Linked DNA regions of Homo sapiens. The protein of the gene in region 1 interacts with the protein of each later gene in a biochemical or structural test. Each region holds a gene or a part of one and is shown in the gene's direction. Other genes may lie near its edges.

Region 1 (7,984 bases):
AATCCCCTCACAACTAGGTGTTTGAAATGGTGATTTTTACCCAGCTTACTTAGGTAAACATCTTAAATTTTGTCCCTCCAGTGACTGGATTTGCAAAATAGAGTGAACAATCACCACCTTAAATTATTAATAGAAATAAATAGGATATAAAATTGTTCAATAAGAGGTGGGAAAAGTTTTGACCAAAAATTCTGCCTTGAAGGGAATGCTGGCATTTCCTCTCAATTAACAACCATAACTTCTGGTAGGAAGAAATGGAGAAGGAACAAGGAGGCCTACAAGAGGAAGGCAAAGGTCGAGGCAATTTGTGGCTAAAAGAGAACAGTCTCTGAGATTCAACCTCTTAGTTCTCAAAGGTTTGCCCATATGCACAAATTACAAGGGTAAGGTGCACATTTACAAAGCTGCAAGTTTATAGTCACTTCCAAGTGAAGCTTTTTGATCTTCAATTCACTTGAAACTTACCCAACACTCTATGTATGACCTCTTGTATTTGTCTTCTACTGTTTTTTTTTTTTTTCCTTTGTGGTGAGGGAGGGAGGACAGGGCCTCACTCTGTCACCCACGCTGCAGTGCAGTGGTACAATCATGGCTCATTGCAGCCTGGACCTCCTGGGACCAAGCGATCCGTCCTTACACCTCGGCCTCCCATAGCTGGGACTTCTTGTATTTTTGTAGACACCTGGGTTTCGTCATGTTGTCTAGGCTGGTCTTGAACTCCTGGGCTCAAGGCATCCTCCTGCCTTGGGCTCCCAAAGTGCTGGGATTACAGGTGTGAGCTACTGCACCCGGCCTTCTACTATTTTTAAACTTGCAATATTTCTTTTTAACATGTTTTATACCCCCAAGTAACATGTCTTATACCCTCAAGTAAGCTCTTTGAGGGAAATGGCTTTATCATGTGCCTGCCCCCCATTCCTCACTGTGAAGTGAAGCTCACAAGGCTCTGTTAATCCACTGAATCTTTGACTCCTCCACTCTTTTGGAATGCCCCTGGGATATGTGTTCTGTAAATGGACACTCAACATGTTTATAGTGAAAATCTAATGGCCGAGAGCCCAGCCACTGTAAACACATTCTTTCTACTTTTGCAGGTCTGCACTCTAATGACAAAAGATTGCTTAGATTTAGAGAAGAAAACGCGTGGATTTCTTCTACAGTGTTACAAGTATTTAAAGCCAGCAACGAAAATTCTTGGAATTTTATGCTGCATCACGATGCGCGGCCCTGGGTGATCTAGCCTTCCAGTTCTTCGTGCAAAGCTGAATACCAGCTTTTAACCACCACCATACCCAACCCGCACCCCAAGCACTGGCACTTGAAGCCGAGTTGTGGTCATACATCACCATCCACACTCCCAGGCTGTAAACCCAATGCAAACCTGGGGCTTCTCAGTGGGACAGGCCTACAAGGAGAGGAGAGGTGCCTCGTGAGGAGGAGCCACCGCAGTAAGCAGTCAGAGCCCCCTTCCCCAGACTCCCCCTTCCAAGGGCAACCCGAAATAGCAGAAACGCTTTTATATGTGGGCAGAGCCGCATGCCCACGAGACAGGCACATGTGGACTGCGGGCATTCGGTACAAGGAAGCGAGGACACAGAGTACGTAGGGTGCTGAGGGTCCACCTCGCAGCCAAAGTATGTGTGCCAGTGAGTGTGTGCAGCTTGTGAGATCTGCTCTAGAAACCGTGGCCGCGGACTGGCGCGGCCTCCTGGGCGAAGCACAAACAGGAGGCTTTGTTCCCTGAATGTGAGAATGAGGGAGCCGAGCTGGGCGCAAAGACGGCGGCGTTCCGCGGCGGGAAACCGTCGTCTCCGCCGCGGCTCGGGCAGCGCGCGAAACTCTCAATCAGGTTCCCCGGCCCGGGCCGCCGGCTATGCCAGCGGCGCGCAGTGGGGACAGCCTAGCTGTCTCGCGAGCAGCGCCCGGAGAGGCCGCGCCGCGGGCCCCGCCGCGTCCCTCCGCCAGCGCGGGCGGCCCCACGCGCCCGCCACTCGGCAGCGCAGCCAGCGCCACATTCCATTTAAAAATAACACCCACGTGCGCTGGTAAACAAGCGCGCGCGGCTACCAGGGCCGCGCGCCCCGGCCCAGTGTGTGTGGCGCGCGCCCGCCCTCCTCCCGCACGTGTCGGCCGGCGCCATTCAGTCCCCGCCCCCTCGGCGGGTCGCGCCCCGCCCCCGAGCCCCCAGCCCCGCCGCTCCGGGCCCTAGCGCCCCCTACCCCGCCAGGCGCGCCCAGTCGAGTGCGCTGCAACTTTCCTCCCCCGACGCCTCCTCTTCGCTGGCAGACCCACCGCCCCAAGTCGGCTGCCTTCCTCCCGTCCGCTGTCCTCTCGCGTCCCCCCTTGAACCCTCCCACCGCCAGCGCGCGAAGGATTGGTTTCTAGTGCGCCCTCTCCCTTTTTCCCTCTCCTCTCTCTCCTTCCTTAGAATTTTACTCGATTGTTTATTATTTGCTGGGGGGCGGGGGCGGGGGGGCGGAGAGGGGCGTCTGGGGCCTGGAGACTGGTGGCCGCGGCCAGTCAGCGCGCGGCGTGCCTTGACGAGTAAGCGGCGCAGCGAATGGCGACGCGGCGGAGAGCTCCGGGGTCACGCGCGTGTGGATACGATGACATCATCTGTTTGTACGCGTCGAACTAGCTTGGTGCAGGGGCGGGGCCGCGCGTCACTTGAGTGACGGGCGCTGCGCAAAGCCCGGAGCCCGGAGGCGGCTGGGCGGGCTGGCTCTTGCGTACGCTGGGCTGGACCTTTTTGTGTATGGGGTCGTTGAGGAGCCCGCTTCTACACTCTGAGCTATCTCCGGTGACTTACAAGGATTTTTTAAAAAATATATTTATGAACTAGTGTGTAGACTTTTGGTGTGCATGTCGCGTGTGGTGCATTCGTAGAGTACAAATAAACGATTTGGGGCACGGATCGTAGAATAAGGACTTGTGCAGATGTTTTTCGTTTAACCTAAAGGATACGTCTTTTTTTAAAAGTCAAAAATGCCCACGTAGCGGTTTTGTCGTCATTTACAAATTAGATTAAAATTATTTCCCCTTCTCAGTTGTTCGGAATCTGCTCTTGAATGTAGGACGGGGGTAAATTTGCATTTCTTCCGGAGTTAGTTACACCTCTCCCCCGTTTGCCATGAAACCCATGAAAAGTGAAACACGACTGTGGTCCACCGTCCGAGGTGAGAGACTCAGTGCAAACCTTTTGGTGCCTGATCGAATCTGTGAGCATCAGCTTATCGAAGTTGTGCAGGCACCAACATCTTCGCCGTTCAGTATTTCCACACCGCGATAACCCTGCCCATCTTGCGGCCAGCATCTTATCTCGGGTGTTACCTGGTGTCGCGTTCTAACAGGGAACCGGACACCGGGGCTGGCCCAGAGCCCGGCGGGCGGACGCGCAGGCCAGGGACCCCCTGGTACCAGGCGCCCTGCCCGGAGTCAGGGAGGCCACGCCGCTGCGCTCCTTGGAGCGTCGGGGGCTGTGCGCTCCTGCCGCTCCCCCTTCTCCCTCCTCTCCCCACTTCTTCCTCCTCTCCTCCCTTCTCCCCCCTTCTCCCTCCTCTCCCGGGCCAGCGCCGCGCTTTGTTGTCGTTGAGACTCTCGGGAGGGAGGAGGAGCCCAGCGGGGACAGCAGCGGGAGCCCGCCGAGTCCCGGCCCACGGCGCGCGCCCGGACACCCACGCCCGCAGCCCCGCGGAGCCGGGCCGCGCAGGCGCGCGCGAGCTCACACACGCGCACTCACACACGCACGCCCGCCGCGCGCCCGGCCCGCCGCCCAGCCCGCCGCCCAGCCCTCCCCCTGGGCGGGGACCCGCCCGCCGTCAGCCTAGGTTGAGGCGCCCTGCGTGTGTCTATAACTTTGTGCTGCTGCCGCGGCCGCCCTGCTCGTGGAAGGGAGGAGGAGGAATGTGGAAGGTGGCGGCGCGCGAGCTGACAGGCGGTTCCTCGGGCGGGCTGCGGCGACGGCCCGAGCGCTTCTCCTTCGCCGAGGTTGCGCGCCCCCTCCTCGCCGTGCCCCGGGCCCGCGCGGGATCGTGCGTCGTCCCGCCGCGTCCCTGAAGGGAAGGAAGCGAGGTAGGCGCCGGAGCCGTGCAGCGGGCGGCCGCCTTCCCGGTGACTCCGGATCTGCTTCCGAGCTGGGCCGGGCGCTTCCCTTTCCCCTCCCTGAGCCGCGGTGTGCGCGCCCCCCTTCTCGCCCGCTAGTGTTTTTAAAGGACTCGGGAAGGGGGAAACTGTCAAGATGGCAGCAGCGGGAGCAAGGAGGTGATGAACGTGCTGGTCCGGGTTTTCTAGCAGCCCGGGAGACTTGGCGCTTCCCGACCTGTTGGAAGATTTATGTTCCGACTCGCTCCCTCCCCCGGATCCCGACTGGGAAGGGGGCGGAGGGGACGACGTCCGCGAGAATGCAAACCACACAAAACCCCGAAGTGGCCGTCCCCGCCGGGCTCGAACCTCTGCGAACACCCGCTGGGCTGCTGCTCCCCCTTCTTTCTGTCTTTCCTTTATTTTTTGGAAGTGACAAGGGCCCATCTGCGCCCAGACCCCCGTTCGCCCTCTGGCCCGCGGGCGAAGAGGGGAGAGGGAGCTGCCCGCGCAGTCCCCGGGCTCGGGCCATTCGACCGGGTGGGGGGTGACGGGGGGTCGCGGAGGCGGCCAGGCTAGGAAAGGGGAGAAGAGCCGAAGACAGCACAGACTTGAGCGGCGGCGCCGCGGGAGGCACTAGAGCGGGCCCGAGCGAAACATAAACAAACGCACGCACACCCGAGCTCGGGCTCTGACCGCGGCTCGGCTGCGCCAGCTCCGGCCGCTGCCCGCTTTAAAGGCGCGGCCGCCCCTCCCCCGGGCGCCCCTCCCCCTTCTCCCCGCCCCGCCGCCTAGCCCGGGAGGGACCTGCGGCTGGGCGGCGGGGGGAGGGGGCTGCCCCGCGCGAGGCCGTCGATTCGCTCGCGGCTCCATCGCGGCCTGGCCGGGGGGCGGTGTCTGCTGCGCCAGGTTCGCTGGCCGCACGTCTTCAGGTCCTCCTGTTCCTGGGAGGCGGGCGCGGCAGGACTGGGAGGTGGCGGCAGCGGGCGAGGACTCGCCGAGGACGGGGCTCCGGCCCGGGATAACCAACTCTCCTTCTCTCTTCTTTGGTGCTTCCCCAGGCGGCGGCGGCGGCGCCCGGGAGCCGGAGCCTTCGCGGCGTCCACGTCCCTCCCCCGCTGCACCCCGCCCCGGCGCGAGAGGAGAGCGCGAGAGCCCCAGCCGCGGGCGGGCGGGCGGCGAAGATGGCAGAGGCACCGGCTTCCCCGGCCCCGCTCTCTCCGCTCGAAGTGGAGCTGGACCCGGAGTTCGAGCCCCAGAGCCGTCCGCGATCCTGTACGTGGCCCCTGCAAAGGCCGGAGCTCCAAGCGAGCCCTGCCAAGCCCTCGGGGGAGACGGCCGCCGACTCCATGATCCCCGAGGAGGAGGACGATGAAGACGACGAGGACGGCGGGGGACGGGCCGGCTCGGCCATGGCGATCGGCGGCGGCGGCGGGAGCGGCACGCTGGGCTCCGGGCTGCTCCTTGAGGACTCGGCCCGGGTGCTGGCACCCGGAGGGCAAGACCCCGGGTCTGGGCCAGCCACCGCGGCGGGCGGGCTGAGCGGGGGTACACAGGCGCTGCTGCAGCCTCAGCAACCGCTGCCACCGCCGCAGCCGGGGGCGGCTGGGGGCTCCGGGCAGCCGAGGAAATGTTCGTCGCGGCGGAACGCCTGGGGAAACCTGTCCTACGCGGACCTGATCACCCGCGCCATCGAGAGCTCCCCGGACAAACGGCTCACTCTGTCCCAGATCTACGAGTGGATGGTGCGTTGCGTGCCCTACTTCAAGGATAAGGGCGACAGCAACAGCTCTGCCGGCTGGAAGGTGCGTACCCACCCCGGGCTGGCAGCAGGACCCGCCGGGCCTCCTGCGCAGCGCGAGACGCGTCTCGGATTCGTCGGAGTGCGCTTGCGGGCTCCAGGGCAAGGGGTTGGCAGGGGGAGCCTCCGCTGCGAGGCTTTGGGGGTTATCTTTGATCCCCGGAGTCGGGGCACCTGGGGACGGTCTCGGAGGGGTGAATGAGGCTCCCCAGAAGCTTGGGGCATGGCCAGGTGAGGAGAGGGGGCAGGGGACGCCGGCGAGGGAAGGGCGAACGGACAGGAGTACATTTGCTGGATTCTCCGGACAGCACCGAGGAGGTAGGTCCGCAGCCAACTTTGGAGTAGAGTTTACCGTAGTGGGGGTCTGGTGCGGGCGCTGTGGCTGGAGTGAGAGGTGTGGGGGTGTTTGGGACGCAGTGTCTGGAGGAGGGGTTGGATGTGTGGTTTCCAGTCTGTCGCAGGAGCATGTTGCGTCGTCACTAGCTGAATGAGAACCTTCGGGTCCAAGTTTCAGCTTGTGGGTGTTAACACCTACAGGCACATCGATCCGATTAGAAAAAGCAGTGGTTGCAAACCTTTTCCTGGACGGCTTCCTTTCCTTGCCTATATTGATACCTTTTCTTCTCGGAGATGTCGCTCCAGTAAACCTGCTTCTGACTAGCTGCTTCTGAAATGTTCTGGGGCCTCGAACCGGCCGGTCTGGCCACCTCAATCCAGACTGGCTGCACCCGCTGCTCCCGCCGAGGCCTGGATTCAGGCACTGTTTGAGGGAAGGGCTCTGGTGTGGGGGACGCGGGGCCTGCGCTTCATTCACTCTGGCGTTTGGGAGGAGGTTTGGGGGCTGGGCCGGGCCGTAATGGCTTCTACCTGTAAATGAACCCGAAGAGAGACTCTCTACCGTTCCTTATCATCCTCTTGGGGCACGGGACACGTGGTAGGGAGAGAGGTGTGGAAAGGCCTATGATGTAATGACTTCCTGCAGTTGGGTATCCAAAGAGATTAACTCCTCTGCCCCTGCTGGGCTGCTGATATCCAGCTGCTTTCCTCTTCCTAGGCACCTCCCTGGCCCCTTCCCCCAAGACAGTGTGTGTCAGTACCAGGCCAAAGAGTCCTGTGCGATTGGAGATATACATCTCTTATCAGCTGCCCATATTTGCAATTTAGCTTAGATTTTTTTTTGTTTTGTTTTATGTAAAAGAAGTAGTTGCTTCCTCCTTCCCTTTCTTCATTGTCATTGGGGAGCCCTCTGTCTTCCTGGGTTTCAGGAGGTATAAAAATAAGAACAGTTTAATCTTAGTGGAGAATTCAATGGAAGCACTGGAGACGAGCCTGTAGATGAAAAAGTTAAAGAACTTAATGTAGAGAATGTTTTATTTTGCTTCTAGAAAACCCTTGCAAAGTTAAATACGGCTTATATCAGAGAGGCTTTGTATTAGATACTTTAAAAGCAAAACACGTGTGCTTTGATATTAATCCACTAATGTGTCTCATTTCTTTTAACAAATGCTTACATTATGAGTCTTATATTTGGTTTAATTCAATTGCTTTGTAAAAGAATGCCAGGTGTATGATACGAGAGTTCTTTACAGAAAGGATGAAAGTTAGACAATTCCATTTGAAAAGAGCACTAGTGTGATATGTTTTAAAACTGGGTTTCCAAGTGGATGGGAAGGGTTAATCAGTGTATAGTATCAGGAAGGCGTAAGCGGACAGGATCTGAGAACATGGATTTGGGGGTTCGAAATGTTTTTCAGATTTCTCTCACTTGAAATTTAGTCTTGCATGTTTGAATTTGGTGAGGAGAATACGTTAGTGAAAAGTTAGTTAACTTTAAACTTAGTTAAAACGTTAACGTAGGAAGGCGTTTTCACCTTTCCTGTGATTTTTAAGGTTACAAAAATAATTTAATTTCACAAATATTTCTTGTTATTTTGTTTATAGTTAAATATAATAAGTTTAATGAACTTTATTTTTGGGGGGAAGATTTACATGAGATAATGGTATTACCAAAAGTAGCCGCGAATTGAGATTGGGCTAGATACATTTTCATATAGTTTGTAGGACTTGCAATACAGATTTTGGGACTAGTCATAAACTTTATGG
Region 2 (7,022 bases), on another chromosome or scaffold:
CACCGTTTTCTGTGTACAGTGCAGAATTGCTAACTCGGCGGTGTTTACAGCAGGTTGCTTGAAATGCTGCGTCTTGCGTGACTGGAAGTCCCTACCCATCGAACGGCAGCTGCCTCACACCTGCTGCGGCTCAGGTGGACCACGCCGAGTCAGATAAGCGTCATGCAACCCAGTTTTGCTTTTTGTGCTCCAGCTTCCTTCGTTGAGGAGAGTTTGAGTTCTCTGATCAGGACTCTGCCTGTCATTGCTGTTCTCTGACTTCAGATGAGGTCACAATCTGCCCCTGGCTTATGCAGGGAGTGAGGCGTGGTCCCCGGGTGTCCCTGTCACGTGCAGGGTGAGTGAGGCGTTGCCCCCAGGTGTCCCTGTCACGTGTAGGGTGAGTGAGGCGCGGCCCCCGGGTGTCCCTGTCCCGTGCAGCGTGATTGAGGTGTGGCCCCCGGGTGTCCCTGTCCCGTGCAGGGTGAGTGAGGCACTGTCCCCGGGTGTCCCTGTCACGTGCAGGGTGAGTGAGGCGCGGTCCCCGGGTGTCCCTGTCACGTGTAGGGTGAGTGAGGCACTGTCCCCGGGTGTCCCTCTCAGGTGTAGGGTGAGTGAGGCGCCGTCCCCGGGTGTCCCTGTCACGTGTAGGGTGAGTGAGGCGTGGTCCCCGGGTGTCCCTGTCCCGTGCAGGGTGAGTGAGGCGCTGTCCCCGGGTGTCCCTGTCACGTGCAGGGTGAGTGAGGCGCGGTCCCCGGGTGTCCCTGTCACGTGTAGGGTGAGTGAGGCACCGTCCCTGGGTGTCCCTCCCAGGTGTAGGGTGAGTGAGGCGCTGTCCCCGGGTGTCCCTCTCAGGTGTAGGGTGAGTGAGGCGCGGCCCCAGGTGTCCCTGTCACGTGTAGGGTGAGTGAGGCACCGTCCCTGGGTGTCCCTCCCAGGTATAGGGTGAGTGAGGCACTGTCCCCGGGTGTCCCTGTCACGTGCAGGGTGAGTGAGGCGCGGTCCCCAGGTGTCCCTGTCACGTGTAGGGTGAGTGAGGCACTGTCCCCGGGTGTCCCTGTCCCGTGCAGGGTGAGTGAGGCGCGGTCCCCAGGTGTCCCTGTCCCGTGCAGGGTGAGTGAGGCGCCGTCCCCGGGTGTCCCTGTCACGTGCAGGGTGAGTGAGGCACGGCCCCCGGGTGTCCCTGTCACGTGCAGGGTGAGTGAGGCGCGGCCCCCGGGTGTCCCTGTCACGTGCAGGGTGAGTGAGGCGCGGCCCCCGGGTGTCCCTGTCACGTGCAGGGTGAGTGAGGCGCGGTCCCCGGGTGTCCCTGTCACGTGCAGGGTGAGTGAGGCGCGGTCCCCGGGTGTCCCTGTCACGTGCAGGGTGAGTGAGGCGCGGTCCCCGGGTGTCCCTGTCACGTGCAGGGTGAGTGAGGCACGGTCCCCGGGTGTCCCTGTCCCGTGTAGGGTGAGTGAGGCACTGTCCCCGGGTGTCCCTGTCACGTTCAGGGTGAGTGAGGCGCGGTCCCCGGGTGTCCCTGTCACGTGTAGGGTGAGTGAGGCACCGTCCCCGGGTGTCCCTGTCACGTGCAGGGTGAGTGAGGCGCTGTCCCCGGGTGTCCCTGTCACGTGCAGGGTGATTGACGCGAGGCCCCCGGGTGTCCCTGTCACGTGCAGGGTGAGTGAGGCGCCGTCCCCGCGTGTCCCTGTCACGTGCAGGGTGAGTGAGGCGCCGTCCCCGGGTGTCCCTGTCACGTGTAGGGTGAGTGAGGTGCCGTCCCCGGGTGTCCCTGTCACGTGTAGGGTGAGTGAGGCGCCGTCCCCGGGTGTCCCTGTCACGTTCAGGGTGAGTGAGGCACGGCCCCCGGGTGTCCCTGTCACGTGTAGGGTGAGTGAGGCGCGGTCCCCGGGTGTCACTGTCACGTGTAGGGTGAGTGAGGCACTGTCCCCGGGTGTCCCTGTCACGTGTAGGGTGAGTGAGGCGCGGCCCCCGGGTGTCCCTGTCACGTGCAGGGTGAGTGAGGCGCGGCCCCCGGGTGTCCCTGTCACGTGTAGGGTGAGTGAGGCGCGGCCCCCGGGTGTCCCTGTCACGTGCAGGGTGAGTGAGGCGCGGCCCCCGGGTGTCCCTGTCACGTGCAGGGTGAGTGAGGCGCGGCCCCCGGGTGTCCCTGTCACGTGCAGGGTGAGTGAGGCACGGCCCCCGGGTGTCCCTGTCACGTGCAGGGTGAGTGAGGCGCGGCCCCCGGGTGTCCCTGTCACTTGCAGGGTGAGTGAGGCACTGTCCCCGGGTGTCCCTGTCACGTTCAGGGTGAGTGAGGCGCGGTCCCCGGGTGTCCCTGTCACGTGTAGGGTGAATGAGGCACTGTCCCCGGGTGTCCCTGTCACGTGCAGGGTGAGTGAGGCGCCGTCCCCGGGTGTCCCTGTCACGTGCAGGGTGATTGACGCGAGGCCCCCGGGTGTCCCTGTCACGTGCAGGGTGAGTGAGGCGCCGTCCCCGCGTGTCCCTGTCACGTGCAGGGTGAGTGAGGCGCCGTCCCCGGGTGTCCCTGTCACGTGTAGGGTGAGTGAGGCGCCGTCCCCGGGTGTCCCTGTCACGTGTAGGGTGAGTGAGGCGCCGTCCCCGGGTGTCCCTGTCACGTGTAGGGTGAGTGAGGCGCCGTCCCCGGGTGTCCCTGTCACGTGTAGGGTGAGTGAGGCGCCGTCCCCGGGTGTCCCTGTCACGTGCAGGGTGAGTGAGGCCCCGTCCCCGGGTGTCCCTGTCACGTGTAGGGTGAGTGAGGCACTGTCCCCGGGTGTCTCTGTCACGTGTAGGGTGAGTGAGGCGCCGTCCCTGGGTGTCCCTCTCAGGTGTAGGGTGAGTGAGGCGCCATCCCCGGGTGTCCCTGTCACGTGTAGGGTGAGTGAGGCGCCGTCCCCGGGTGTCCCTGTCACGTGTAGGGTGAGTGAGTTGCGGCCCCCGGGTGTCCCTCTCAGGTGCAGGGTGAGTGAGGCGCTGTCCCTGGGTGTCCCTGTCTCGTGTAGGGTGAGTGAGGCTCTGTCCCCAGGTGTCCTTGGCGTTTGCTCACTTGAGCTTGCTCCTGAATGTTTGCTCTTTCTATAGCCACAGCTGCGCCGGTTGCCCATTGCCTGGGTAGATGGTGCAGGCGCAGTGCTGGTCCCCAAGCCTATCTTTTCTGATGCTCGGCTCTTCTTGGTCACCTCTCCGTTCCATTTTGCTACGGGGACACGGGACTGCAGGCTCTCGCCTCCCGCGTGCCAGGCACTGCAGCCACAGCTTCAGGTCCGCTTGCCTCTGTTGGGCCTGGCTTGCTCACCACGTGCCCGCCACATGCATGCTGCCAATACTCCTCTCCCAGCTTGTCTCATGCCGAGGCTGGACTCTGGGCTGCCTGTGTCTGCTGCCACGTGTTGCTGGAGACATCCCAGAAAGGGTTCTCTGTGCCCTGAAGGAAAGCAAGTCACCCCAGCCCCCTCACTTGTCCTGTTTTCTCCCAAGCTGCCCCTCTGCTTGGCCCCCTTGGGTGGGTGGCAACGCTTGTCACCTTATTCTGGGCACCTGCCGCTCATTGCTTAGGCTGGGCTCTGCCTCCAGTCGCCCCCTCACATGGATTGACGTCCAGCCACAGGTTGGAGTGTCTCTGTCTGTCTCCTGCTCTGAGACCCACGTGGAGGGCCGGTGTCTCCGCCAGCCTTCGTCAGACTTCCCTCTTGGGTCTTAGTTTTGAATTTCACTGATTTACCTCTGACGTTTCTATCTCTCCATTGTATGCTTTTTCTTGGTTTATTCTTTCATTCCTTTTCTAGCTTCTTAGTTTAGTCATGCCTTTCCCTCTAAGTGCTGCCTTACCTGCACCCTGTGTTTTGATGTGAAGTAATCTCAACATCAGCCACTTTCAAGTGTTCTTAAAATACTTCAAAGTGTTAATACTTCTTTTAAGTATTCTTATTCTGTGATTTTTTTCTTTGTGCACGCTGTGTTTTGACGTGAAATCATTTTGATATCAGTGACTTTTAAGTATTCTTTAGCTTATTCTGTGATTTCTTTGAGCAGTGAGTTATTTGAACACTGTTTATGTTCAAGATATGTAGAGTATCAAGATACGTAGAGTATTTTAAGTTATCATTTTATTATTGATTTCTAACTCAGTTGTGTAGTGGTCTGTATAATACCAATTATTTGAAGTTTGCGGAGCCTTGCTTTGTGATCTAGTGTGTGCATGGTTTCCAGAACTGTCCATTGTAAATTTGACATCCTGTCAATAGTGGGCATGCATGTTCACTATATCCAGCTTATTAAGGTCCAGTGCAAAGCTTCTGTCTCCTTCTAGATGCATGAAATTCCAAGAAGGAGGCCATAGTCCCTCACCTGGGGGATGGGTCTGTTCATTTCTTCTCGTTTGGTAGCATTTATGTGAGGCATTGTTAGGTGCATGCACGTGGTAGAATTTTTATCTTCCTGATGAGTGAATCTTTTGGAGACTTCTATGTCTCTAGTAATCTAGTAATTCTTTTTTTAAATTGCTCTTAGTACTGCCACACTGGGCTTCTTTTGATTAGTATTTTCCTGCTGTGTCTGTTTTCTGCCTTTAATTTATATATATATATATATATTTTTTTTTTTTGAGACAGAGTCTTGGTCTGTCGCCCAGGGTGAGTGCAGTGGTGTGATCACAGGTCAGTGTAACTTTTACCTTCTGGCCTGAGCCGTCCTCTCACCTCAGCCTCCTGAATAGCTGGAACTGCAGACACGCACCGCTACACCTGGCTAATTTTTAAATTTTTTCTGGAGACAGGGTCTTGCTGTGTTGCCCAGGCTGGTCTCAAACTCTTGGACTCAAGGGATCCATCTACCTCGGCTTCCCAAAGTGCTGAATTACAGGCATGAGCCACCATGTCTGGCCTAATTTTCAACACTTTTATATTCTTATAGTGTGGGTATGTCCTGTTAACAGCATGTAGGTGAATTTCCAATCCAGTCTGACAGTCGTTGTTTAACTGGATAACCTGATTTATTTTCATTTTTTTGTCACTAGAGACCCGCCTGGTGCACTCTGATTCTCCACTTGCCTGTTGCATGTCCTCGTTCCCTTGTTTCTCACCACCTCTTGGGTTGCCATGTGCGTTTCCTGCCGAGTGTGTGTTGATCCTCTCGTTGCCTCCTGGTCACTGGGCATTTGCTTTTATTTCTCTTTGCTTAGTGTTACCCCCTGATCTTTTTATTGTCGTTGTTTGCTTTTGTTTATTGAGACAGTCTCACTCTGTCACCCAGGCTGGAGTGTAATGGCACAATCTCGGCTCACTGCAACCTCTGCCTCCTCGGTTCAAGCAGTTCTCATTCCTCAACCTCATGAGTAGCTGGGATTACAGGCGCCCACCACCACGCCTGGCTAATTTTTGTATTTTTAGTAGAGATAGGCTTTCACCATGTTGGCCAGGCTGGTCTCAAACTCCTGACCTCAAGTGATCTGCCCGCCTTGGCCTCCCACAGTGCTGGGATTACAGGTGCAAGCCACCGTGCCCGGCATACCTTGATCTTTTAAAATGAAGTCTGAAACATTGCTACCCTTGTCCTGAGCAATAAGACCCTTAGTGTATTTTAGCTCTGGCCACCCCCCAGCCTGTGTGCTGTTTTCCCTGCTGACTTAGTTCTATCTCAGGCATCTTGACACCCCCACAAGCTAAGCATTATTAATATTGTTTTCCGTGTTGAGTGTTTCTGTAGCTTTGCCCCCGCCCTGCTTTTCCTCCTTTGTTCCCCGTCTGTCTTCTGTCTCAGGCCCGCCGTCTGGGGTCCCCTTCCTTGTCCTTTGCGTGGTTCTTCTGTCTTGTTATTGCTGGTAAACCCCAGCTTTACCTGTGCTGGCCTCCATGGCATCTAGCGACGTCCGGGGACCTCTGCTTATGATGCACAGATGAAGATGTGGAGACTCACGAGGAGGGCGGTCATCTTGGCCCGTGAGTGTCTGGAGCACCACGTGGCCAGCGTTCCTTAGCCAGTGAGTGACAGCAACGTCCGCTCGGCCTGGGTTCAGCCTGGAAAACCCCAGGCATGTCGGGGTCTGGTGGCTCCGCGGTGTCGAGTTTGAAATCGCGCAAACCTGCGGTGTGGCGCCAGCTCTGACGGTGCTGCCTGGCGGGGGAGTGTCTGCTTCCTCCCTTCTGCTTGGGAACCAGGACAAAGGATGAGGCTCCGAGCCGTTGTCGCCCAACAGGAGCATGACGTGAGCCATGTGGATAATTTTAAAATTTCTAGGCTGGGCGCGGTGGCTCACGCCTGTAATCCCAGCACTTTGGGAGGCCAAGGCGGGTGGATCACGAGGTCAGGAGGTCGAGACCATCCTGGCCAACATGATGAAACCCCATCTGTACTAAAAACACAAAAATTAGCTGGGCGTGGTGGCGGGTGCCTGTAATCCCAGCTACTCGGGAGGCTGAGGCAGGAGAATTGCTTGAACCTGGGAGTTGGAAGTTGCAGTGAGCCGACATTGCACCACTGCACTCCAGCCTGGCAACACAGCGAGACTCTGTCTCAAAAAAAAAAAAAAAAAAAAAAATTCTAGTAGCCACATTAAAAAAGTAAAAAAGAAAAGGTGAAATTAATGTAATAATAGATTTTACTGAAGCCCAGCATGTCCACACCTCATCATTTTAGGGTGTTATTGGTGGGAGCATCACTCACAGGACATTTGACATTTTTTGAGCTTTGTCTGCGGGATCCCGTGTGTAGGTCCCGTGCGTGGCCATCTCGGCCTGGACCTGCTGGGCTTCCCATGGCCATGGCTGTTGTACCAGATGGTGCAGGTCCGGGATGAGGTCGCCAGGCCCTCAGTGAGCTGGATGTGCAGTGTCCGGATGGTGCACGTCTGGGATGAGGTCGCCAGGCCCTGCTGTGAGCTGGATGTGTGGTGTCTGGATGGTGCAGGTCAGGGGTGAGGTCTCCAGGCCCTCGGTGAGCTGGAGGTATGGAGTCCGGATGATGCAGGTCCGGGGTGAGGTCGCCAGGCCCTGCTGTGAGCTGGATGTGTGGTGTCTGGATGGTGCAGGTCAGGGGTGAGGTCTCCA

The links. Proteins that work in one complex are often made in the same cells at the same time.
Region 2: the proteins of FOXO3 (region 1) and TERT form a complex in vitro, tested with the Homo sapiens proteins (one study listed by BioGRID).

The regions. Positions count from the first base shown.
Region 1 is NC_000006.12:108,555,945-108,563,928, forward strand, and holds the start of FOXO3 (forkhead box protein O3), read left to right. Parts: upstream 1-4,972; 5' UTR 4,973-5,264; coding exon 5,265-5,885; exon of another isoform or gene 5,886-6,079; coding exon of another isoform or gene 6,080-6,199; intron 6,200-7,984. UniProt on the Homo sapiens protein: Transcriptional activator that recognizes and binds to the DNA sequence 5'-[AG]TAAA[TC]A-3' and regulates different processes, such as apoptosis and autophagy.
Region 2 is NC_000005.10:1,285,058-1,292,079, reverse strand, and holds part of TERT (telomerase reverse transcriptase), read left to right. Parts: intron 1-7,022. UniProt on the Homo sapiens protein: Telomerase is a ribonucleoprotein enzyme essential for the replication of chromosome termini in most eukaryotes. Active in progenitor and cancer cells. Inactive, or very low activity, in normal somatic cells.